Homo sapiens: one gene and its partners. The protein of the gene in region 1 interacts with the protein of each later gene in a biochemical or structural test. Each region holds a gene or a part of one and is shown in the gene's direction. Other genes may lie near its edges.

What was found.
Region 2: the proteins of LRRK2 (region 1) and ARK2N form a complex in vitro, tested with the Homo sapiens proteins (one large-scale study listed by BioGRID and IntAct).
Region 3: the proteins of LRRK2 (region 1) and CUEDC1 form a complex in vitro, tested with the Homo sapiens proteins (2 studies listed by BioGRID and IntAct, with this or other methods).
Region 4: of the proteins of LRRK2 (region 1) and ARHGEF7, one has a biochemical effect on the other in vitro, tested with the Homo sapiens proteins (2 studies listed by BioGRID and IntAct).
Region 5: the proteins of LRRK2 (region 1) and ECHS1 interact on a protein array, tested with the Homo sapiens proteins (2 studies listed by BioGRID and IntAct, with this or other methods).
Region 6: the proteins of LRRK2 (region 1) and CHGB interact on a protein array, tested with the Homo sapiens proteins (3 studies listed by BioGRID and IntAct, with this or other methods).
Region 7: the proteins of LRRK2 (region 1) and APEX2 form a complex in vitro, tested with the Homo sapiens proteins (one large-scale study listed by BioGRID and IntAct).

Annotation. Positions count from the first base shown.
Region 1 is NC_000012.12:40,231,497-40,234,996, forward strand, and holds part of LRRK2 (leucine-rich repeat serine/threonine-protein kinase 2), read left to right. Parts: intron 1-777; coding exon 778-887; intron 888-3,500. UniProt on the Homo sapiens protein: Serine/threonine-protein kinase which phosphorylates a broad range of proteins involved in multiple processes such as neuronal plasticity, innate immunity, autophagy, and vesicle trafficking.
Region 2 is NC_000018.10:46,180,534-46,184,033, forward strand, and holds part of ARK2N (protein ARK2N), read left to right. Parts: intron 1-3,500. UniProt on the Homo sapiens protein: AMPK substrate important for exercise capacity and skeletal muscle function.
Region 3 is NC_000017.11:57,868,413-57,871,912, reverse strand, and holds part of CUEDC1 (CUE domain-containing protein 1), read left to right. Parts: intron 1-543; coding exon 544-627; intron 628-2,719; coding exon 2,720-2,791; intron 2,792-3,500.
Region 4 is NC_000013.11:111,303,271-111,306,232, forward strand, and holds the end of ARHGEF7 (rho guanine nucleotide exchange factor 7), read left to right. Parts: 3' UTR 1-2,462; downstream 2,463-2,962. UniProt on the Homo sapiens protein: Acts as a RAC1 guanine nucleotide exchange factor (GEF) and can induce membrane ruffling. Functions in cell migration, attachment and cell spreading. Promotes targeting of RAC1 to focal adhesions. May function as a positive regulator of apoptosis.
Region 5 is NC_000010.11:133,366,855-133,370,354, reverse strand, and holds part of ECHS1 (enoyl-CoA hydratase, mitochondrial), read left to right. Parts: intron 1-323; coding exon 324-451; intron 452-1,332; coding exon 1,333-1,432; intron 1,433-3,361; coding exon 3,362-3,466; intron 3,467-3,500. UniProt on the Homo sapiens protein: Converts unsaturated trans-2-enoyl-CoA species ((2E)-enoyl-CoA) to the corresponding (3S)-3hydroxyacyl-CoA species through addition of a water molecule to the double bond.
Region 6 is NC_000020.11:5,923,682-5,925,853, forward strand, and holds the end of CHGB (secretogranin-1 precursor), read left to right. Parts: coding exon 1-419; intron 420-1,290; coding exon 1,291-1,368; 3' UTR 1,369-1,672; downstream 1,673-2,172. UniProt on the Homo sapiens protein: Secretogranin-1 is a neuroendocrine secretory granule protein, which may be the precursor for other biologically active peptides.
Region 7 is NC_000023.11:55,006,460-55,009,557, forward strand, and holds the end of APEX2 (DNA-(apurinic or apyrimidinic site) endonuclease 2), read left to right. Parts: intron 1-58; coding exon 59-976; 3' UTR 977-2,598; downstream 2,599-3,098. Other genes in the region: ALAS2 (5-aminolevulinate synthase, erythroid-specific, mitochondrial isoform a precursor), read right to left, coding at 2,721-2,884. UniProt on the Homo sapiens protein: Functions as a weak apurinic/apyrimidinic (AP) endodeoxyribonuclease in the DNA base excision repair (BER) pathway of DNA lesions induced by oxidative and alkylating agents.

The DNA of each region.
Region 1 (3,500 bases):
TGCAGTGATCTATGATTGCACCATTGCACTCCAGCCTGGGTGACAGAGTGAGACCCTATCTCAAAAACAAAAACAAAACCAAAAAAAAAAAAAAAACAAGAAAAAAAAAGTACTAAGGATCTGGTATAGCCATTCTTGCACTTAATAATCTTGGTACAACCTCTAAAACTATTTTTTATAGTTTATTTTATTTTGCCTTATTTAGACAATTGGCATGTCTATGTTCTTCATAATTTAGAAATTATATGTATTTATATATATAAATTATATATATTATATATTATGTATAAATTAAATTATATATATATATAATATATATATATTTGAAATGGATTCTTGCTCTGTCATCCAGGCTAGAGTGCAGTGGCACAATCTTGGCTCACTGCACCCTCTGCCTCCTGGGTTCAAGCGATTCTCCTTCCTCAGCCTCCCGAGTAGCTGAGATTACAGGCGCCCATCACCATGCCTGGCTAATTTTTGTATTTTTAGTAGAGACTGGGTTTCACCATCTTGGCCACATTGGTCTCAAACTGCCGGCTGAAATGTTGTATTTTTTGTATGTCTTTCTGGTATGATTTTTGGAGAAAGGTGTATCCTAAGAATACGGCTTGCTTTTGTTTCTGGGTAAGCATTTTAGGGTATCATTTTGTTGTATAACCATTGTTTACAAGTGAGATAAGCATCTATTCCACTAAGATTGAAGAGATTCATGTTTGACTGAGTATGCTCTATTAACATTCTTTAAAACATGTGAATATATGTCTTTCTTGTTTTCAGGTGGGTTGGTCACTTCTGTGCAAATTAATAGAAGTCTGTCCAGGTACAATGCAAAGCTTAATGGGACCCCAGGATGTTGGAAATGATTGGGAAGTCCTTGGTGTTCACCAGTAAGTATGATAGATATGTAAAACAAATGGCCTTGAGTATTTATTTGTACACATGACAACCTTCCCTTGATACACTGTGTTTGCAATCCAAGGCTACTCCTGTGGAATTCTTTAAAATACAGATATTTTTCCTTGAGTCAATGATTTACATTTATAGAGAGCTTTAAACTCAGAAGTTTGATTTAGAAAGCAAACATTTAAGGTAACATGTCAGAAGTTATTATTTTAATAATATAATCATATAATTATAAAACTGGTTAAGTTGTAGATTTTTGATGAGTACTTTTGAATTCAAACCATGAAGAGATTTTGGCTTTTAATAATAGAATCGATACAAACCACTAGTTCTTAAAAAAATGGGAACTGAGAAAAGTTAGTTCTGTAAGTAGTAATTTGAAAGTTGATGTTCTACTGTCTTTAAATAGTACATTTATATATATATTCCTATATATACAGTAAGTTTAAACTATGGCTTTCAGAAAGAGTTAAGAAAGAGGAAATTAACTTTCAGCACATCTGTAGCCAAATCTTGATAGTAATTTTACCAGCTATGTTTTTGCAGTTTGCAGCATAATGGCTTCTTAGATGAGACTACTTCCTTAGCCATCATTAATTAAGAAAATATTTTCTCAAGAAGAATGTGTTTCCAGGAAAATACATTTTGGATAGCTTTGTTTCTTGACAGTTAAAAAATATCTTCTAAGCTACTGAGGAGGCTGAGGAAGGAGAATCACTTGAACCTGGGAGGCGGAGGTTGCAGTGAGCGGAGGTTGCAGTGAGCCGAGATTGCACCACTGCACTCCAGCCTGGGTGACAGAGCGACACTCTGTCTCAAAAACAAACAAACAAACAAACCTTTTGTCATTAACTTTAAATCTTTTTTATACCTAATATGACTTTTCTTTATCACAGAAAAGGAAATTGTGAATATTTTTTGGCTTCCAATGGTATATGGTTTATGAAAATTTAATTTATGAAAAATTTTCAGGTGTTTGTATTGCTGATCAGTGTCAAGTAGTGCTATAAATTTAGACAAATTAGAGCTATGTGTTTGTCCATAAGTGAACATGTCTGTGCTTATACATTTTCCCCTCTTTGACAAATGTGTTGCTCTTCTTGTTTTCAGTACATAAAGGGTGTGTTTTGGAAAGAGCATATTTACAATTAATTGGAGTTCTCGTCTTCAATCTAATCTCTGTAATTCTATGTATCAGTTCTAAAGTATACAGCATTTGATGAGGAATTACTCAAAATATACCAGTAATTAGGAATTGTAACTTTAAATGTCCCTTGGTTTGGGTGATAATTTCCAGGAAGTCCAAAGATGAGCCAGTCTATAACCTCAGGGAGTGTTTGGGAAACTCATCTAGTCATATTCCTGTACAAACCAACTGTTCAAATTAAATTACATAAAAGTTTATGTAGGAAATTTCATTCACTCACTCACTTACTCATTCACTCACTTTGTTCATCCAGTCATTCATCTTCTATTCATTGAATGTTTTTGAAGCCTGTCCTCTGGGTCAGAAACCATGCAGTTGTGAAGAAGATAGACACACTGCTGTCTCCAGTGGAGTGTATTAGATCACTCCCAGCAAAAATTGATTGTAAAACAGATTTCTCTTTTTTCAAGGCCTTTTCCCTCCAAAGACTTACCAGTACTGAAGAAAAATTTCTTCCGTGGTAATAAAGTCAGGAATTGTGGGAATGGTATAGGGAGAGGTAGGGGCAGGGTGATTAGGAGGAAGGCTGGCAGAGAATCGAAGACTGGCTTCATTCAGGTCCTCCAATTGCCAAATGGAGATTATGCAACGTTTCTTGAATACATACAAAACTCTAGATGTGGCCAGCTCAGTCTTCTTCCAATAATGTAAAGCCAAACAATGCTTTGCAGGAATAGACTAGAGATTATATTTTGGGATTAATAACATAGGGATTAAAATCTTATCTTGAACTAACTAAACATTATTGATATGCTAAATTCACTTTTTTTTTTTTTTTTTTTTTTTTTTTTTAGACAGAGTCTTTCTCTGTTGCCAGGCTGGCGTGCAGTGGCGTGATCTCGGCTCACTGTAACCTCTGTGTCCCGGGTTCAAGTGATTCTCCTGCCTCAGCCTCTCGAGTAGCTGGGACTGCAGGAGTACGCCACCACGCCCAGCTAATTTTTGTATTTTTAGTAGAGACAGGGTTTCATCATGTTGGCCAGGATGGTCTTGATCTATTGACCTCATGATCCCCCCGCCTCGGCGTCCCAAAGTGCTGAGATTACAGGCGTGAGCAACGGCCACCGGCCCACTACTTTTTAATATATCATTAATTTCTCTTTTAAAAACAGTAGCAATCAATAATTTAAATATTCAAATGAATTCTTAATTTATATACACAAACTAACATCTTTATTATATCTCTATATTTTAATATATCAACATGTCTAAGATAATTTATAAATTTACATCATATATAAAAATGGGTTTGCTCTCGATGTATATAAGGCTTCATGATATTTTGAATATGGAGTTGGGTGAAAATAGTGAATCTGAATATTTGAATTTGAATATTTATTGGAAAATAAGTAGTGCTTTTAACTTTTTAAATGAGACACATAATAGTCCC
Region 2 (3,500 bases), on another chromosome or scaffold:
CTGTCTCTACTAAAAATACAAAATTAGTTGGGCATGGTGGCGCATGCCTGTAATCCCAGCTACCCAGGAGGCTGAGGCAGGAGAATCTCTTGAACCTGGGAGGCAGCTGTGGTGAGCCAAGATTGTGCCATTGCACTCCAGCCTGGGCAACAAGAGGGAAACTCTGTCTCAAAAAAAAAAACAACAATAAAAACAAAACAAGCAAGCAGTCTCTGCCCACAGAACTCAACCTAGTGAACCAGATGATTTCTGAGTTTCCTTCCTGCTCTAAAATGTGGAGAAGAGAAAGTAGATTATAAGGGAAAAAAGTACTGCATAACAAAACAACTGTAGTATGGAACTAGTGTTTTCCCTTATAAATTCATTTTAAATAAGGTATTAGAAAATAGCATTTTTCTTGGTATCTCTAAGCTTTAAAAGGCTGGAAACTTAAATGTCGTTTTTTGGGCTGGGCATGGTAACTCACGCCTGTAATCCCAGCACTTTGGGAAGCCGAGGCAGGTGGATCACAAGATCAGGAGTTCGAAACCAGCCTAGCCAACATGATGAAACCGTGTCTCTACTAAAAATACAAAAATCAGATGGGTGTGGTGGTGCACGCCTGTAATCCCAGCTACTTGGGAGGCTGAGGCAGGAGAATTGCTTGAATCTGGGAGGTGAAAGTTGCAGTGAGCAGGGATCATGCCATTGCACTCCAGCTCTGGGCAACAGAGCAAGACTCCCTCTCGGGAGGTGGGGGGGGAAATGTCGTTTTTTTGTAATGCCAGTTCATTTACAAAATACATTTGCTTGTAATTCAAGTTCATGTATTAAGTTCTGATTGTTGTTCAGAGAGAAACAACATTAAATCTGTTAAAACTTAGAGCAGCCATTCCTAAGAATGTATATAACCTAGAATTGTGCCAGGCATGGTGGCTTATGCCTGTAATCCCAGCACTTTGGGAGGCTGAGGCGGCGGATCATGAGGTCAGGAGATCGAGACCATCCTGGCTAACGTGGTGAAACCCCGTCTCTACTAAAAATACAAAAAATTAGCCAGACGTGGTGGCGGGCACCTGTAGTCCCAGCTACTCGGGAGGTTTGAGGCAGGAGAATGGCATGAACCCAGGAGGAGGAGCTTGCAGTGAGCCAAGATCGCGCCACTGCACTCCAGCCTGGGCGACAGAGCGAGACTCCGTCTCAAAAAAAAACAAAAAACTAGAATTGTGCTTGGGTAGTCTAGAAATTAAGTTTATTTTGATTGATTGATTGATTGATTGAGATGGGGTCTTACTATGTTGGCCAGGCTGGTCTCCAACTCCTGGGCCCAAGTGATCCTCCCATTTCAGCCTCTCATAGTGCTGGGATTACAGATGTGAGCCACTGTGCCTGGCTGAAATTAAGTTTTTATTAGCATAATTAGCATTAGAGAAACAAGATACTGACCAAAGTGACCAGTAGAAGTTATTTTTTTACTGAGTTGACTAGTTTAAAAAAATGACCTTTACAATAATGTCTGGAGTCTGCATTTTGTTAGGTGCCTTATAATTAGAGAAAGGTATTGTCGGGGATAGGGAAGTTGGGTGTGGACTAAAATTTAAGGAAAACAGGATTGTTTTTCTTTCTGTATTAAGAACAAAAACTTCATGTGGTTAAAATTTTAAGCAGTATCCTGTCTGCCTTAGTTTTAACCTAGCATAGAATCATAGCTTGTTCTTAAATCAACAGTTTAGTGTCAAGGGTTTCTTACTATTTTTCTCTGCTGAAATCAACTAAGCACTTTGCAGTGAGCCTGAAGGTGTGTATAGTGGAGAGAATTTTGGCAGCTTTTATCTTGGGACCTCAGTTCCTGGCATGTGGTTATCCATCTTTATGTGAATTGTCTTCTGAAGGAGATAGAAAATGACCAGGGCAGAAATCTTGGAGAAAATTTAGAACCTTTGTTTTAGGGCCAGGCATGGTAGCTCACACCTGTAATCTCAGCACCTTGGGAGGCAGAGTTGGGAGGGTAGCTTGAGCCCAGGAGTTTTAGACCAGCCGGGGCAACAAAGTGAAACCCTGTCTCTATTAAAAAATTATTTTTAAAAATTAAAAGAACCTCTGTTTTAAATTATTCTTGATTTACACTGATGATGCTTTTGAGTACTTTAGAGAGTCATTAGCCACAGTGCTTTTTTTTTTTTTTTTTTTTTGCATTTGATAACTTCTTTGGCTTCTTACTTGATGCTAGTTTATTCACAGCCCTGGTGCAGGTCCAGGTACATGCCAGAAGTAGTAATATCTGCAATATGAAGTGATTTGAGCAGCCATTATCACCTTTGACCTATTTATAGAGTTTATATCAGTGGAGAAAAAGTTGGCTGGCAAGCAAGCAAAGCTGATCTCTGGTGGTTGCAATCTCACAATTTATATTTAAGTTCCGGGTAGGCCAAATTCAGTGCATTATGGACAGATCCATTCAGCTGTATTAATATTAGAGTTCCCTTTCTGTACTCTAACTTTTTAGCACTCCAGTTTCCCAGTCAGCTTCACTGTTGAAGGAAAGAAAACCGAAAAACTTACCACACTAAAAAAAAAAAGGAAGAGTTCCTTAATGTAATATGATAGTCAGTGTTCAGATTTCCCTCTTATCTCATAAATGTGTCAGATCAAGAGCCAAATAAGGTCTCTGCATTGTTTTGTAATCTGTAGGTTCCCCCTCCATTTCTTTTCCCTAGCAGATTATTAGTTACAAAAGAAGTTTTCCCAGTGTGGATTTAGCAGTTACATTCCTTTGGATTTCTGTGGTGGTGGTGGTAAACGTTTTTCTCTGACCCCTGGGTTTCTAGTTAATTGGTATTAGATTTAGAAGCTTGATCAGATTGTTTCTATAATATATATTCTTTCTCTTGCTTCTTTTGCAGGGGATGAGGGGAATACTTTATAGATGGTACTTGGATCAGTAGGTGCATAATATTTGGTTCCCTGTGATGTTAGTAGCTGTTGGTGATCGTTGCCCAGTTGTGTTAATTTGTTACTCATAATTCCTTACTCTGAATGGGGCATCCTCTCTCATCAGTCCTAGTTTGAGTCTTTTATGCTTGTTTATAGCTTCTTCAAACTTTTCTTTCTTTTGAGGATTAAGGGAAGGGATGAGTTGCTGTGGAGAAAAGGGCTCTTTCTACTATATTGTATTTCTGTAAGTGTTTTTTATTTTAGTCCTAATCTTTGGTTCTTGCATTGTCTGCATTGTCTATGCTGCAGCTTCTTGGTGGGAAAACTGACTCAAAATCCCAGCAAATAATTGAAAGAAGTCCTTCAAAACCAAATTTTTAAAAAAATTTTTTTCTGAGTTAGAGTCTTGCTCTGTCGCCCAGGCTGGAGTGCAGTGGCGCGATCTCAGCTCACTGCAACCTCCGTCTCCCGGGTTCAAGCGATTCTCCTGCCTCAGCCTCCTGAGTAGCTAGGATTACAGGTGTGTGCCACCATGCCTGGCTAATTTTTGTATTTTATTTTTGAGACGGAGCCTCACAGTGTCACCC
Region 3 (3,500 bases), on another chromosome or scaffold:
CGCTCTTGTCACCCAGGCTGAAGTGCAGTGGCTCAATCTCGGCTCACTGCAACCTCCGCCTCCCAGGTTCAAGTGTTTCTCCTGCCTCAGTTTTTCAAGTAGCTGGGATTATAGGCGCACGCCACCGCACCTGGCTGATTTTTGTATTTTTAGTAGAGACGGGGTTTCACCATGTTGGCCAGGCTGGTCTCGAACTCCTGACCTCAGGTGATCTGCCTGCCTTAGCCTTCCAGTGTGCTGGAATTACAGGCATGAGCCACCATCCCTGGCCGTGCCTTTCTTTTTAAATGAGGGGGTTTGGACTCTACAGTCTCTCTGAGTCCTTTTAATTCTGACATTTGAGATGGCTGTCAGGCGGTAGTTTCTTTTACTGCTGGTTCTTTGAGAGCTGGTAGATGTGTGCACTCATATTTTGGGTGCCCGTGTGTGCTCATGTGTGATTCTGGGGACTTAGCCTCTAGCAAACTACCGTGTCCCAGCCCAGCCTGCCCCTGGGAGCCCAGGAGCTAACCTCCCTGACCTGTGAATGTGGTCCTTTTCCAGATCGATTGAAATACGAATCCCAGAAATCTAAATCCAGCAGCGTGGCTGTCGGAAACGACTTTGGCTTTTCCTCTCCTGTCCCAGGTAACTTTGCCTTCTGGGGAAGAAAACCTAGAGGCATAGTGGGGAGCTCACACCCAACTTTGCTTTGCATATTTGGAGTTTGAGAGGAGGGTGAAAAAACAGATTGTGGGAGGGGGCCTGGGCCTCCTCAGCAGGCTGGCGGGGCTGCTTCTGCCCCCATCTCCATATCCAGTCCATTTAGCAGCTCTGGGGTCTTTCCAATCCAGCCACTGCTGGGCTTCAGAGCCCACAGTTGTGTTCAAGTAACATAGGCTGGCTGAACTCTCAACCTATGCCTCGAGTGTAGGCTAGTCAATGACACATGGCCAGGTGCGGTGGCTCACGCCTATAATCCCAACACTTTGAGAGGCCGAGGAGAGTGGATTGCTTCAGCCCAAGAGTTCAAGACCAGCCTGGGCAACAAAATGAGACCCCCCTATCTCTACCAAAAAAGTACTAAAAATTAGCTGGGCATATTGGCCTGTGCTTCTAGTCCCAGCTACTCAGGAGGCTGAGGTGGGAGGATCACTTGAGCCCAGGAGGTTGAGGCTGCAGTGAGCTGTGATTATGCCACTGCACTCCAGCTTGAGTGACAGAGTGAGACCCTGTCTCCAAAAAAAAAAAAAAGAAGAAAAGGACCCCAAAATGCCCCGTGGTGGGGCTCAGAGACTCATAAGTCTTGGTCTGTGTCCTGGGGAAGCTTATGGTCTTGTAAGGAGAAATGCCCAGAAAACAGGTAGAACAAACTAGCAAAGCTGAGGACTTACTGATTTTAGCAAATGCATGGGAAAAAAGGAGGGCAGGATTAATCTGGGGAGTTTACTCATTCATTCATGACATAGCTGGAGAATATCTGCCATCTGTTGGGCCTTGCCCTAGGTGTTGGAGGAAGAGGAATTTCTAGCTTTGTGTACAAGGTGGTGGGAAGTAAGAATTGCCTGTAAAGAGGGCCAGGCCCTTCTGCTCAGAAGCTCTGATGGCTGAAAGAGGGTTGGATAGGGGTGAGGGGGCTGCAGTGCTCCTGGGATGCGCAGACTACTGGGTTGAGCCACAGCTGGGAACGATGACCTGGTGCCTGTGTGCGAACAGTGGCCCCTCATCAGTCAGTGCCCCCTGCCCCACATGTACACAAGCTGCCCACCTCGGAGAAGGGCTCTTGCCTGGAATAGACCTTGCATCATGCAGTGGAGTTGGGGGTGGAGGAGCAGAGGGATGGGGAGCTGAGCTGATCCCAGCTTGAAGGGAGAAAATCCTGTGGAACTGACTCATAAGCAGCAGGCTGGGAGCTTAGGGCTCAGCAGATGTGCAGCTGGGAGTTTTAAGCAGGAGCCTCTTGTCCTTGATCCTGAATTAACTAGAGATACCGGGGCTGCTGAGATGGATCAGAATGACTCAAAGGGGACTTAGCAGGCAAGGTGACTGGGGATTAACCAAGTTGCAGGACAGAGAGCAGGGGCTTCAGAAACCAGCAAAAAACCCAAGTGGATGCTGAGCGAGCCCGGGAGACTCTGGGTGGCCGGTGGGGTTCTGACTCCAGGACTAGTCCCATTCTATTCCTACTCATTGTCTAATAGCCAGAAACCCTGTGGCTGGGAGGGAGCAATGGATGGGCTTACCTGGCAGGAAGGACAAGGGACTTGCTACAGGTGAATGCCGGCTCTGAGCCAGCACCTCATTTGACTGTCACATGAATGTCGGGGTGCAGGAGGCCCCTGGTGTGCTGGTGAATGTTTCACAGCCAACTCTGGGTGCAGCGGGAGCCTGATATGTAGTGCTTGGTGACCTCCATGGTGGAAATACTCCCAAGCTACCAAGGTGATGTCATGAAACATGGAGTTGGTCAGAGGCGTGGACAGTTGGGAGCACACACGAGCTGGCTGTCTGCACACACAGTAGACCGCTGAACCCTCCCCATTTTTACAGAGGAGGAAACAAAGTCCACAAGGGGAAAGAGGAGCTCCTGGAACTCCACATCCTCCTTGCTTTAAACTCCCTTCTGGCCAGGGAAGAAGCCTGCTCTTTCTTTGCATTTGTCCTCAGATGGGTGGGTAGGGCTGGGACAGCGGCCATGGCTGGCCACGGTGGCCGGCCTTCAGCAGGTGTCTCCTTCCAGGAACTGGCGACGCCAACCCCGCTGTGTCTGAAGATGCCTTATTCAGGGACAAGCTGAAACACATGGGAAAGTGTGAGTCCCACTCAGGCCCCGCTTCCCTCCCCAGCTTTTCTGAGACAGGCCCTGTGGCCTCCCAGGAGTGAGGGAGCCCCTCAGCACATGTAATGCAGCTGACTCTTGGTGAACCAGTGACATTTTCATCGCAGGCTGGCTCCCTCAGCCTTCCTGCCTCACTTCCCTCTACAGCTGAGTCTAGATACAAATTAAGTTTTAAATCCTCTTGAGCCAGATGTCTGCAGAAAAATAACGTGCCACACATGCCCTCACCGCAATCCTCATGTTCACGTTCTCTGTGGCTCGAGGAGGCTTGGCCGGAGCTGACTGCACAGAGAGGCCCTTGCTAAGCCTCTGTGGGGGTGGGGGACCTCTTTCCACAAAGTCCTACCAGCCTTGAATGCCCCCTTCCCTCCCCCTCACCTCCCCGCCACACAGACCCACAGCCATGTGTGAATGAGGCTGCGATCCTTTCAGGCTCCATTTCAAGGAAAATCTCGGATTAGTCATGGAAATCCCAGAACCAACTTTGGAGGTGGCTAGGGGAGGGGCGGGAAGGCGGTGGCGGCGGGAAAGCGAGCCAAGATGCGTTGCAGTGTGTTGCAGCTGGGGAGGGAATACTTGGATCTTGAGCCGCCTGCGGTCCCTGGGCCTGGCTCAGGGTGTCCTGTGCTGCCCCTGCAGGCTGACCCAGGATGTAGCCTCTTGCTCCTGGGGTGGCGTCCTC
Region 4 (2,962 bases), on another chromosome or scaffold:
AGACGATCAAACCATGACTGATGAATCCAGACAGGAGGGATTGACTCTGAGGACCTGAGCTACATCAATCCACTCTGTGAACATCTCAGTTACCTCATTCTGCAATAAGTTCAGTGACTGACTAAAAGTCTTGTTTTTCCAGACTTTGAATTGAATATATAAATATTATATATACATGTTTCTTGTAAATATCCCATTTTGAATGCATACCTGTGGTGGTTCTGTCCGGGCTAATCCCCATGCTAGAATGTCCTTTCCAGCTACGTGAATAAGAAGTCCCATGCCCGCATCCACCGGAAGCAGAAGCCTGGTGGATGCCTGGTTCGTTCCGCAGCACCAGGGCCTCCACCGTGCTGTGGCAGCACCCCCCATGTCGGTATTTCTAAATAACCTTATTTATACCTGCAGAGATACACTTCAGTCCCATTCAGAAGTCTTCTCTTAAAGCAGCATTACAGTCCCAGACCTGCGGGTTTCTGAGGGCAACTTGCTGGCTGACAGACTCAGTCTTGACCTCAAGGAAGGCCCATACGGCACTGCCGCATCCACCTAGAGGTGTTTGCTCTTGTCCGCTGTCTGAGTACTGTGATTCTCAGATGAGTTTGCTGCGTTTTGGGAGGACACAGACGGTTCTGTATAGGCTAGTTCAGTAACAACAAAATACACTGTTTTGTCTTCCCTCAAAGAGAGATCTTACTAGAACCTGTAAATAGAATGTATTATTTATTATAAGTCACTGCAGCTGATGAAAACAGATGGAGGCCATGCTGCAGGCTGATACTGATGGGTGGAGTTTTGTCATCAGGCCAGCCTCATCCCGAGGTCTCCTCCACCATTGGCCGTAGCCAGCAGGCTTCAGTGCTCACCGAAAGTAAAATCCCCTCCTTCAGCAAGAATAAAGCAATATACACCTTAGGTTCCACTAAGTAACATAGGCATAAGCAGGGAACGTTTCCCCCACTGTGTTCCAGTGCAGAGGAGACGAAGCCTGTCCTCACCGCGGCTCGCTGGGCCCAGGCTGGCTCTGGAAAGCCTGTGCGGTCCTGGGCAGGAAGCCCGGCCCGTGGAGCAGGTTTTCGTTCTGCTTCAGCAATAAATAAGGGTGACCACAGGGACTTTGCTTTTGGTTTCCTTTCCTGTGAAAAGGTTGGTTTTAAAGTGAGATACACTTTTCCGTAGAACAAGTGTTCTATCTTTAAAAACCCAAATTGCAGCACCGTGGATTACTGGTCTCAGAACAACTCATTGCGCATCAGATTTGACTCTCTGATTTTCTGTCTATTGGCCAAATTGCCCTTTAACTGCACCTGAATCCTTTGTGTACTGATGCCTTTGAGCTGGGCACCTTGGGAGAGTGTTGTGTTGCTGTTTACGGTTCTTCCTTGCCCTTGCTAATTACAGTCTCTGGTGCCCAGCAAGCCCCTTTGGCTTCCTTCCGTGACTGGTCACGTTGTCTGCCTGGGCTCAGCGTGGACCTGCCCCATGCTGCAGAACCTGGCCTCACCTGGACTTTTCACTAGAATTGCCAGCTTCCTCAACTTAGCAGATCATTCACTCATGCGGGCACAAGCAAAGATCAACACTTTCTTTTTTGGTAAGCTTGAGTTTTACAAGTTATTTTTTGGTGATGCGTAAGACATTGCAGTGGGAAACCATTCAACTTGAGTTTATTGGAGTTTGCTGTTGTAGCAGGTTTTAACTCAGGAACAACTCTTGTCTGATCTCTCCGCCCCTCTGCCGGGAGGCGACATTAACTGTCCTCTCGGAGCCGGTAGCGTTGCTGTCCGAGTCCCCAGGACGGATCTCCTGCAGACCTGCCTTAATGCTCAGATCGAAGTATTTCACAAGAATACTTGTGTTTTTAACAGCCCTTCCCCTGGACGGTGCGGCCATGAGGGCCTCATGTTACGGCATTGCCTTTTCTTTCTGTGGATCCAGTATCTTCCTCGGCTTTTTAGGGAGCAGGAAAAATGCGTCTGAGAGCAACTCTTTTTAAAAACCTGCCCTGTTGTATATAACTGTGTCTGTTTCACCGTGTGACCTCCCAAGGGGGTGGGAACTTGATATAAACGTTTAAAGGGGCCACGATTTGCCCGAGGGTTACTCCTTTGCTCTCACCTTGTATGGATGAGGAGATGAAGCCATTTCTTATCCTGTAGATGTGAAGCACTTTCAGTTTTCAGCGATGTTGGAATGTAGCATCAGAAGCTCGTTCCTTCACACTCAGTGGCGTCTGTGCTTGTCCACATGCGCTGGGCGTCTGGGACCTTGAATGCCTGCCCTGGTTGTGTGGACTCCTTAATGCCAATCATTTCTTCACTTCTCTGGGACACCCAGGGCGCCTGTTGACAAGTGTGGAGAAACTCCTAATTTAAATGTCACAGACAATGTCCTAGTGTTGACTACTACAATGTTGATGCTACACTGTTGTAATTATTAAACTGATTATTTTTCTTATGTCACAGAATGTGTCGCTTCGTCTTCTTTGATGTGTTTTCTGTGTGCTTGTTAGCTTTACAGTTTCTTTGGGCTGTTTTAGATTTGAAAATTCTGTCTGTCTTTGATACTGAAGATAACATGTTTCCTTTAAAGTCTAGAGTTTGAGAAAATTTGAAGATTTTTTTTTAAAAGACAAGGAAAGAACACTGGAAGTCTTAGGAACAAAAGCTGAAGTAACAGGTCACGCTGGTAGGCACAGCCCCCAGGTCCTCACCCATGCCTGGAGGAATGACCTGCATTCTGGAAGGCGCTCAGGACACCGTTTTGTGGGATCAAGTAAGCGAAACTTTCTTGAAGATATCTGTGGGGTCCCTTTTAGGAGCTGTCATAAGACAAAAGGAAATTGCTCGTGTGTGTCCCTGTGTGGCGGTGGTGCAAACGAGGGTGTCTTCCGGAAGGGTGGCCGGGAGGACCAAGCGGGGTCTCCTGTCCATGGTCCGTGTACCTGGCTCAGGTGTGTCTA
Region 5 (3,500 bases), on another chromosome or scaffold:
CAAAACAGCTTCTTCAAAGGGGTTTAGGTCCTTGGCAGTCAGGCTTTGTGTGTGTCAAGGGCTTATGCCCTGACAAATATGCCTAGCCTCTGTGGGCGCCTCCCTTGCACCTGCTGCCTGCCTCAGGGCCCCTCTGCGTGACTTCTGTTCTAGCTGGCATTACAGCGTCCCTACAGCTGTCCACGTGGCCTGGTGTCAGCCGTGCCCAGCAACCCCACTGCCTGTGTCTGGTGTGCTCTGAAGTTCCTTGTTGGTCTGAGAGATATAGGATGGGTGGGCTCTCTGCTCTCTGGTAACTGGAACCTCCTTTCCACTCCTGCTAGCTGGAGCTGATATCAAGGAAATGCAGAACCTGAGTTTCCAGGACTGTTACTCCAGCAAGTTCTTGAAGCACTGGGACCACCTCACCCAGGTCAAGAAGCCAGTCATCGCTGCTGTCAATGGCTATGCCGTGAGTGTTGCTGCCAAGAGTCTCCTCCTCTCGTGGTTGAAGGAACCGTGCTGTGCATACACAGCATAACAGATTTTTATTTTGAAGAGGCCTTTAGTTCCCAGGCCAGCAGCCTCCTTTCCTGCCTCATGGTGCTAAAGAGCCAGGAACTGTGTGGAGAGGACACCTCCTGGCATCTGCTTTTTTCGTGGCTGTTCACCTGACAGCTTCTCCCCAGCAAGCCTCTCTTCCAGGGTGGGGGAAGAGAGGTGTTGGCTTTGGCTACATCTATAAACTAGCTTCTTTTGCTCCCCTTGAAAGCTCTGTGTCCTGGGACTATTTGAAGTGCTGAGACTGATCTTGGCCTATAGGGAAGGCAATGTGATCATTTCATGACGCTCCCTGCCGTGTAAGCCAGGGGTCTGCGGATTGTGATCATTTCATGACGCTCCCTGCCGTGTAAGCCAGGGGTCTGCGGATTGTGATCATTTCATGACGCTCCCTGCCGTGTAAACCAGGGGTCTGCGGATTGTGATCATTTCATGACACTCCCTGCCGTGTAAGCCAGGGGTCTGCGGATGGAGTTTTCCCGGCACAGCCACACCCACCTGTGCACCTAGTCTCTGTGGCTGCATTTCGGCCACAGCAGCAGAGTTGAGTCGTGGCAGCAGAGCCTGTAAGACCCTCATGGTCCTTTACAGGATGTTTGCCAGCCCCTGGTAAACAGCATCAACCATCTGTAGTTAACTTATCATAACAATTATCTAGTTTGGTGCCACCATGTTAGTCTTTGTCATACCCCCAACACTGTTTCTTTTAAATGGAAAATTTGAATAAGCAAGCAGAGTGATTTCTGACTGGGTTCCCCTGGTAAGACTCTCCTGATGCCGAATGTTTTACAGTTTGGCGGGGGCTGTGAGCTTGCCATGATGTGTGATATCATCTATGCCGGTGAGAAGGCCCAGTTTGCACAGCCGGAGATCTTAATAGGAACCATCCCAGGTAAAGAGTGACACTGTCTCTGGCATAGATGCCTTAGGTAATTACTCAAAATCTGCCTGTGTCTCAGGGCCCACAGCTCATATCTGACCAGAGGCCCTGGATGGACAGCCCCATGGCTGGTCAGTGGTCCCTCTGTGGACAGCCACGGAGGCTAGAGTGGTTGTGACAGAGCTTGGGGGGGGCCTTAGAGTCCCGGGACTGTGACTGTGCCCACATCTGATGGTGTTGGGAGAGGCTGGTCCTGGGTAACGCTGGCTTCTAACCATGACAGTTCTTGCTTGTGATTCGTGTCCATGGCAGAGAGGGAACATGGTGACCCTGGGTGGCACTGGGAGCTCTGCACACTGCCATCTCACTGGCCATGGAGGTCACATGGCCTGGGTTCAGGGTGGGGAGTCAGACCCCCCACCCAGGCCCGTGAGAAGGGCCTGGGCTCTTGGCAAAAAGCAACACCCTCTAACCCCAGGGTTCTCCTGGTAGGAAGGGTGGGCCCAGGCCGAGCAGCCAGGAGGGAGCTGAGACCCTGAGGGGAGCAGCTGCACTCAGGGTGCCCTTCGCTGCCCTCTGAGTTGGACGAGGCCGATTCTGAGGCCTGGAGCTGTGAGCTCGGTGCATTTGTTTCGGGTCTGATCCCTAGAACAGCTGCTACTATAAGGGACCAGTGCCTGGGGTCAGGGAGGCCTATAAGCTTCTAATATGTTGACCACAGAGGCTGGGGAGGGCCCTACAGAGTCATCACCTTGATCTAATGTCAGGGTGTTGGGGGAGTGTAGTGTCCAGCCCTACGGGGCTTAGCAGGTGTTCTCCCCATGTGCGGAGACGAGAGATTGTAAGAAATAAAGACACAAGACAAAGAGATAAAGAGAAAACAGCTGGGCCTGGGGGACCAATACCATCAAGAGGCGGAGACCGGTAGTGGCCCCGAATGGCTGGGCGCACTGATATTTATTGCATACAGGACGAGGGGGCAGGGTGAGGACGGTGAATCCTCTAAGTGATTGACAAGGTGAAGCAAGTCACGTGATCATGGGACAGGGGGCCCTTCCCTCTTAGGTAGCCGAAGCAGAGAGGGAAGGCAGCATATGTCAGCATTTTCTTCTATGCACTTACAAGAAAGATCAAAGACTTTAAGACTTTCACTCTTTCTTCTTCCACTATCTGCTACGAACTTCAAAGAGGAACCAGGAGTACGGGAGGAGCATGAAAGTGGACAAGGAGTGTGATCGTTGAAGCACCACAGGGAGGGGGTTAGGCCTCCGGATGACTGCGGGCAGGCCTGGAGAATATCCAGCCTCTCACAAGAAGCTGGTGGAGCAGTGTTCCCTGACTCCTCCAAGGAAAGGAGACTCCCTTTCATGGTCTGCTAAGTAATGGTTGCCTTCCCAGACACTGGCGTTACTGCTTGACCAAGGAGCCCTCAAGCGGCCCTTATGCAGGTGTGACAGAAGGCTCACCTCTTGCCTTCTAGGTCTCTTCTCACAATGTGCCTTCAGCACCTGACCCTATACCCGCCAGTTATTTCTTGGTTATATTAGTAATACAACAAAGAGTAATATTAAGAGCTAATGATTAATAATGTTTATACTAATGATTGATAATGTCCATGATCATCTCTATATCTAATTTGTATTATAACTATTGTTATTCTAACTATTTTCTTTATTATACCGAAACAGTTTGTGCCTTCAGTCTCTTGCCTCGGCACCTAGGTAATCCTTTGCCCACAGGGGAGCACCAGATGTGGGGCCTGAGCTTGAAAAGGGGCTGCTGCCCCTGATGTTCCCGGGCTCTTGTGCTGCCTGGCCTCTGACCCCTGGACCTAGTCTCAGGGCCTATCTTAAGCCCCTTGGAATTTGCTGGCTGCACAGCTGTGATGTCTTCTTGGGTTCACTCATCACAGTGCCAGCCATGACCAGCCCCTCCCTGCAGGTGCGGGCGGCACCCAGAGACTCACCCGTGCTGTTGGGAAGTCGCTGGCGATGGAGATGGTCCTCACTGGTGACCGGATCTCAGCCCAGGACGCCAAGCAAGCAGGTATGGGTTGGGGCTGCCCGCAAGAGCCACCTGG
Region 6 (2,172 bases), on another chromosome or scaffold:
AAAAGAGGAAGAGATTAGGGGAACTGTTCAACCCATACTACGACCCTCTCCAGTGGAAGAGCAGCCATTTTGAAAGAAGAGACAACATGAATGACAATTTTCTCGAGGGTGAGGAGGAAAATGAGCTGACCTTGAACGAGAAGAATTTCTTCCCAGAATACAACTATGACTGGTGGGAGAAAAAGCCCTTCTCTGAGGATGTGAACTGGGGGTATGAGAAGAGAAACCTCGCCAGGGTCCCCAAGCTGGACCTGAAAAGGCAATATGACAGGGTGGCCCAACTGGACCAGCTCCTTCACTACAGGAAGAAGTCAGCTGAGTTTCCAGACTTCTATGATTCTGAGGAGCCGGTGAGCACCCACCAGGAGGCAGAAAATGAAAAGGACAGGGCTGACCAGACAGTCCTGACAGAGGACGAGGTATGGTCTAGGGCTTCTGTTTAAAAGTACTTACTCTGGTCAATGTTAGCACATTATGTTCAAGACTATCCGATATTCACGGGGAGAAATTGGTGGGAATTAATCACTATGAAAATGGTGCTCTAGTAATGGAGTGGAGGCCACCTTGGGGGTCGGTTTCCACCTACCTCTAGCCATCGTCCACATCCTTGTCCACCTCACTCGGTTGCATTGCTTCTCAACCTTGTCTGCACACTGGGGTCACCTGGAGAGCGTGAAAAATTACTGTGTTAGAGATTCTGTCTACTTAGTTCCTAGGGTGCTGCCTGATCATCAGAATATTTTAAAGCTTCCAGATGATTGCAGCGTTCAGCCAACGTTAACAACTGCTGTTCTGGTATCTTCCCCTTGGTCCTCTTATTGTTCATCACTCTCTCCCTGAGGCAGGGAGAATAGGTGATAGAGAAGTTTACTTGCTTGCCTATTTAGTTTGCTATCTTTATTATTTCATGCCCTACTGCCATCAGAAATTTGTATCTGGGAGAGGTAACACTACTGGAGCTGAACCTACCCAAACAATGTTTTTTTTCCTAATATTGATTATGTAGGTTGGTGCTTCTCAAAGTTGAATGTACATTAGGATCATGAGGGATTCCTAGCCCCCAGAGTTCCTCATTTAGTAGGTCCCAAGTGAGACCCCAATATCTGCATTTCTGACAAGTTCCTGGCTGATGCCACTGGTCAGGGGACCACACTTTGAGAGTTACTGAGGTAGGTTGACTAATGCAGCTTCTAACATGCCTAAAATTCCCCTTTGCACTCATGCTCCATCAAACTACAGCAAAAGAAATTGGTTCGGGACCTCATGCCTCCACTTTTCTGTATTTTCCAGAAAAAAGAACTCGAAAACTTGGCTGCAATGGATTTGGAACTACAGAAGATAGCTGAGAAATTCAGCCAAAGGGGCTGACTGTCATTGGAGCGGTGGGCACTGTTAAGAAGCAGCCATCACATGATCTGTTTTTCACCACTTCACTGAAAGACACCATTTATCTACCCAAGGGCAGAAAGTAGAACTTACTATTCATTAAATGTTTGACACAATTGGAATTGTCTTTAATTTCTGTCAGAATGCTATTGAAAATGTGAATTGCATGACTTGTAGCATATTCTTTTCTGCAAAATAGACATATTAACATGCTTATGACAATGACTGTGCTACTGTCTTTGGAAAAATGTTTGTCTCAGTTGGAAATAATAAAAGATTCACCTGAGACCAAAAGCTTCATTGTTCTCAGCTTCTTTTGGGCAAAGAGAGAGGTGTGTGACTTTTCAAATCTATTCTTTGAAGTAAATTGCAAAAGATGGCCCTAGGATTTGTTGGGTTTTGGATGCATAATAGAATAAAAAAGCAAACCTTTTGAAGTAATGTGCAGGATATAAAGAGAAATAGATTAGAAAAAGACATCTACTCCCCCATGCTGAGAGAGATTACAGGGGCTTGAAGAACCTGTTTCAAAAACAATCATAAGATATTACTTTAAAAATTCCTTTATCTAAAGAGCTCTACAAGTAGCCAGCCAAAGTTCATTTTTCAGGGCTGAGAAGAAAGCTTGGATAATGGGAAGAATTCCGGGGTGGGAGTGAAAACATCTGGATTGTCAAGACAGATCCCTGGCCCCTCAGATCTTGTCTGATTTCTACTCCTTAAGAAGATAGAGGCAGCTGGGTGCGGTGGCTTACAGTTGTAATCCTAGCACTTTGGGAGGCCCAG
Region 7 (3,098 bases), on another chromosome or scaffold:
AGTTCTAGGTATCTAGTTCTGTCTCTCTCTCTTCCAACCCCCTTTCCTCCTCACCTAGGAATGCTTTGAAGAGGACCCAGGGCGCAAGTGGATGGACAGCTTGCTCAGTAACTTGGGGTGCCAGTCTGCCTCTCATGTAGGGCCCTTCATCGATAGCTACCGCTGCTTCCAACCAAAGCAGGAGGGGGCCTTCACCTGCTGGTCAGCAGTCACTGGCGCCCGCCATCTCAACTATGGCTCCCGGCTTGACTATGTGCTGGGGGACAGGACCCTGGTCATAGACACCTTTCAGGCCTCTTTCCTGCTGCCTGAGGTGATGGGCTCTGACCACTGCCCTGTGGGTGCAGTCTTGAGTGTGTCCTCTGTGCCTGCAAAACAGTGCCCACCTCTGTGCACCCGCTTCCTCCCTGAGTTTGCAGGCACCCAGCTCAAGATCCTTCGCTTCCTAGTTCCTCTCGAACAAAGTCCTGTGTTGGAGCAGTCGACGCTGCAGCACAACAATCAAACCCGGGTACAGACATGCCAAAACAAAGCCCAAGTGCGCTCAACCAGGCCTCAGCCCAGTCAGGTTGGCTCTAGCAGAGGCCAGAAAAACCTGAAGAGCTACTTTCAGCCCTCCCCTAGCTGTCCCCAAGCCTCTCCTGACATAGAGCTGCCTAGCCTACCACTGATGAGCGCCCTCATGACCCCGAAGACTCCAGAAGAGAAGGCAGTGGCCAAAGTGGTGAAGGGGCAGGCCAAGACTTCAGAAGCCAAAGATGAGAAGGAGTTACGGACCTCATTCTGGAAGTCTGTGCTGGCGGGGCCCTTGCGCACACCCCTCTGTGGGGGCCACAGGGAGCCATGTGTGATGCGTACTGTGAAGAAGCCAGGACCCAACTTGGGCCGCCGCTTCTACATGTGTGCCAGGCCCCGGGGTCCTCCCACTGACCCCTCCTCCCGGTGCAACTTCTTCCTCTGGAGCAGGCCCAGCTGAACCAATGGAGGCCTGGGGACATCTGGCATGGTCACCCCTGCACATGATCTGAGGCCAGCTCCCCTTCCCTGAGCTGCCTCCTGCTTCTCCCTCAAAGTCTCCTACCCTTCTCTTCCTCTTTTAAGCCCTCTCTTCCTCGCTTTCCTTCCTACCTAGCTCCTTGTTGGTGAGCTTCTTGTGCCTTAATCCTGTGACCCAGCCCCTTACACCACTTTCCACCTTCCTGTCCGAAGTACACGGACACTAGCTGCCCCAGGAAGTTGTGTGATTTTAAATCACTTCTGTCTTTGCTGGAAAGTGTATTTGTGCATAAATAAAGTCTGTGTATTTGTTTCAGGGTTGCACTTTGGACATTGTGGAGGTACTCCATAAAGTTGAGTCAGAGAAGCTATCTCAATACTTGGTTTGCCGGCTGGCTGTAGCCCAATGATGTAATTCCCAGAGAAAGGGGAGGAGGGAGGGGGGAGGAGGGAATAGTGAGGCGTGAGCAGCAGTGCTCACCATAAAGGGTTCTCTGCTCAGTTGTAGGAATTTCCTGTACGGCTAAGGTGAAATCAGCAAGGAAGGTGGGCTGTGTAGCCTTAAACCAGAGCTTTCCAGCTAGTGCGTCCCACAGCTGCCACAGTGGGTTACAGGGTTGAAAGAAACGGTCCTCAGCCCTCAGAGTTGCCAGGCAGGGCCTGGGACCACACAAGTTTCAGGGACGATTGCCTCCTTAGCAAGTAGTATCATTAGTACCCCTAAGTGTGCCATGGAAATGTTTCCTGTATACTGTGACCTGGAAAGTGGGAGCATTGCTTTGAACACAGTGCTTGCTCTAGCCAAGCCTCTTCTCACCTTTGAAAATGGGACTGGTAGACCAGGCACAGTGGTGCACGCCTGTAATCCCAGCACTTTGGGAGGCTGAGATGGGTGGATCACCTGAGGTCAGGAGTTCGCAACCAGCCTAACATGGTGAGACCCCGTCTCTACTAAATACAAAAAAATTAACTGGGCGTGGTGGCGCGTGCCTGTAATCCAAGCTACTTAGGAGGCTGAGACAGGAGAATAGCTTGTACCTGGGAGGCGGAGGTTGCAGTGGGCTGAGATCATGCATTGCACTCCAGCCTGGGCAACAAGAGTGAAATTCAGTCTCCAAAAAAAAAAAAAGAAAAGAAAAAGAATGGGACTGGTAAATCCTGTTCTGTGGGATGCCGTGGGAGGGAGAGAGGATAATGGATTGAGGAAGACATCCATATCCCCTTATGGAAAATACCTCTTTGGTTTTGGGGAACCACTCCTTTCTAGGGAATTTGGTTAGGGCTGACTCATTTCCTGGCTTCAGGGGCTACCCTGGGCCCAGATTTCCAGGGCCCGGATTACCAGTGAAGCGTCAATCCCTGGATTTTTATTGAAACCATTGGAGAAGAGCCATCTCAAATAAATCTGCCAAGTATCCTAGCTCTTTGCAACTCACTGTGTAGTTTTTGGGCATTTCCTTCCTCTTTCTCATTCTGTTTCCCTGTTGGTAAAATGGAATGGTGACCAACAAGTGACCTATGGTTACCTCATAGATCTGCCACTTGTCTGAGGGAGTCAGAATGCACTTGTCTGTTCCCTGTCCAATAAAAGGCTTCACATGCTGTGGTTTGTGCTTTATTTTTAGGCTCAATTCAGCTAGAGGCACACAACAAAGCAGAAGACAGGAGTAGGCCTGGACCCAAGTGAAGCGCAGGTGGGGTGTGAATCCTAGGCAGCTGGCTTCTCAGGCATAGGTGGTGACATACTGGGGCCCCATGTTCCCGAAGTAGGAACGTTCCCACTCACTCATGAGCTCAAAGTGTACAGGACGGCGACAGAAATTGCAGGCAGCCACAGACACATCCTGGAGGGGCAGCCCCACCGCAGTCCAAGCCAGCAGCAGCTTCTCTGAAGGTGGTAGGGGGAGGGGAGGGAAAAAATGGGTTAGACTAGATCTTCCAAATCTGTCACAGTACAGATGAGCCAAGATATTGATCCCCCTCAACCCTTCAAGATACCTCAGGGCCAGAAGTAGCCTACTGTTTGCTTCTGTGTGTGCCGTGAATATTACCATTTGTATCTGGATGCTGGGATATATATTATAAAAGATTTGGAAGCTCTC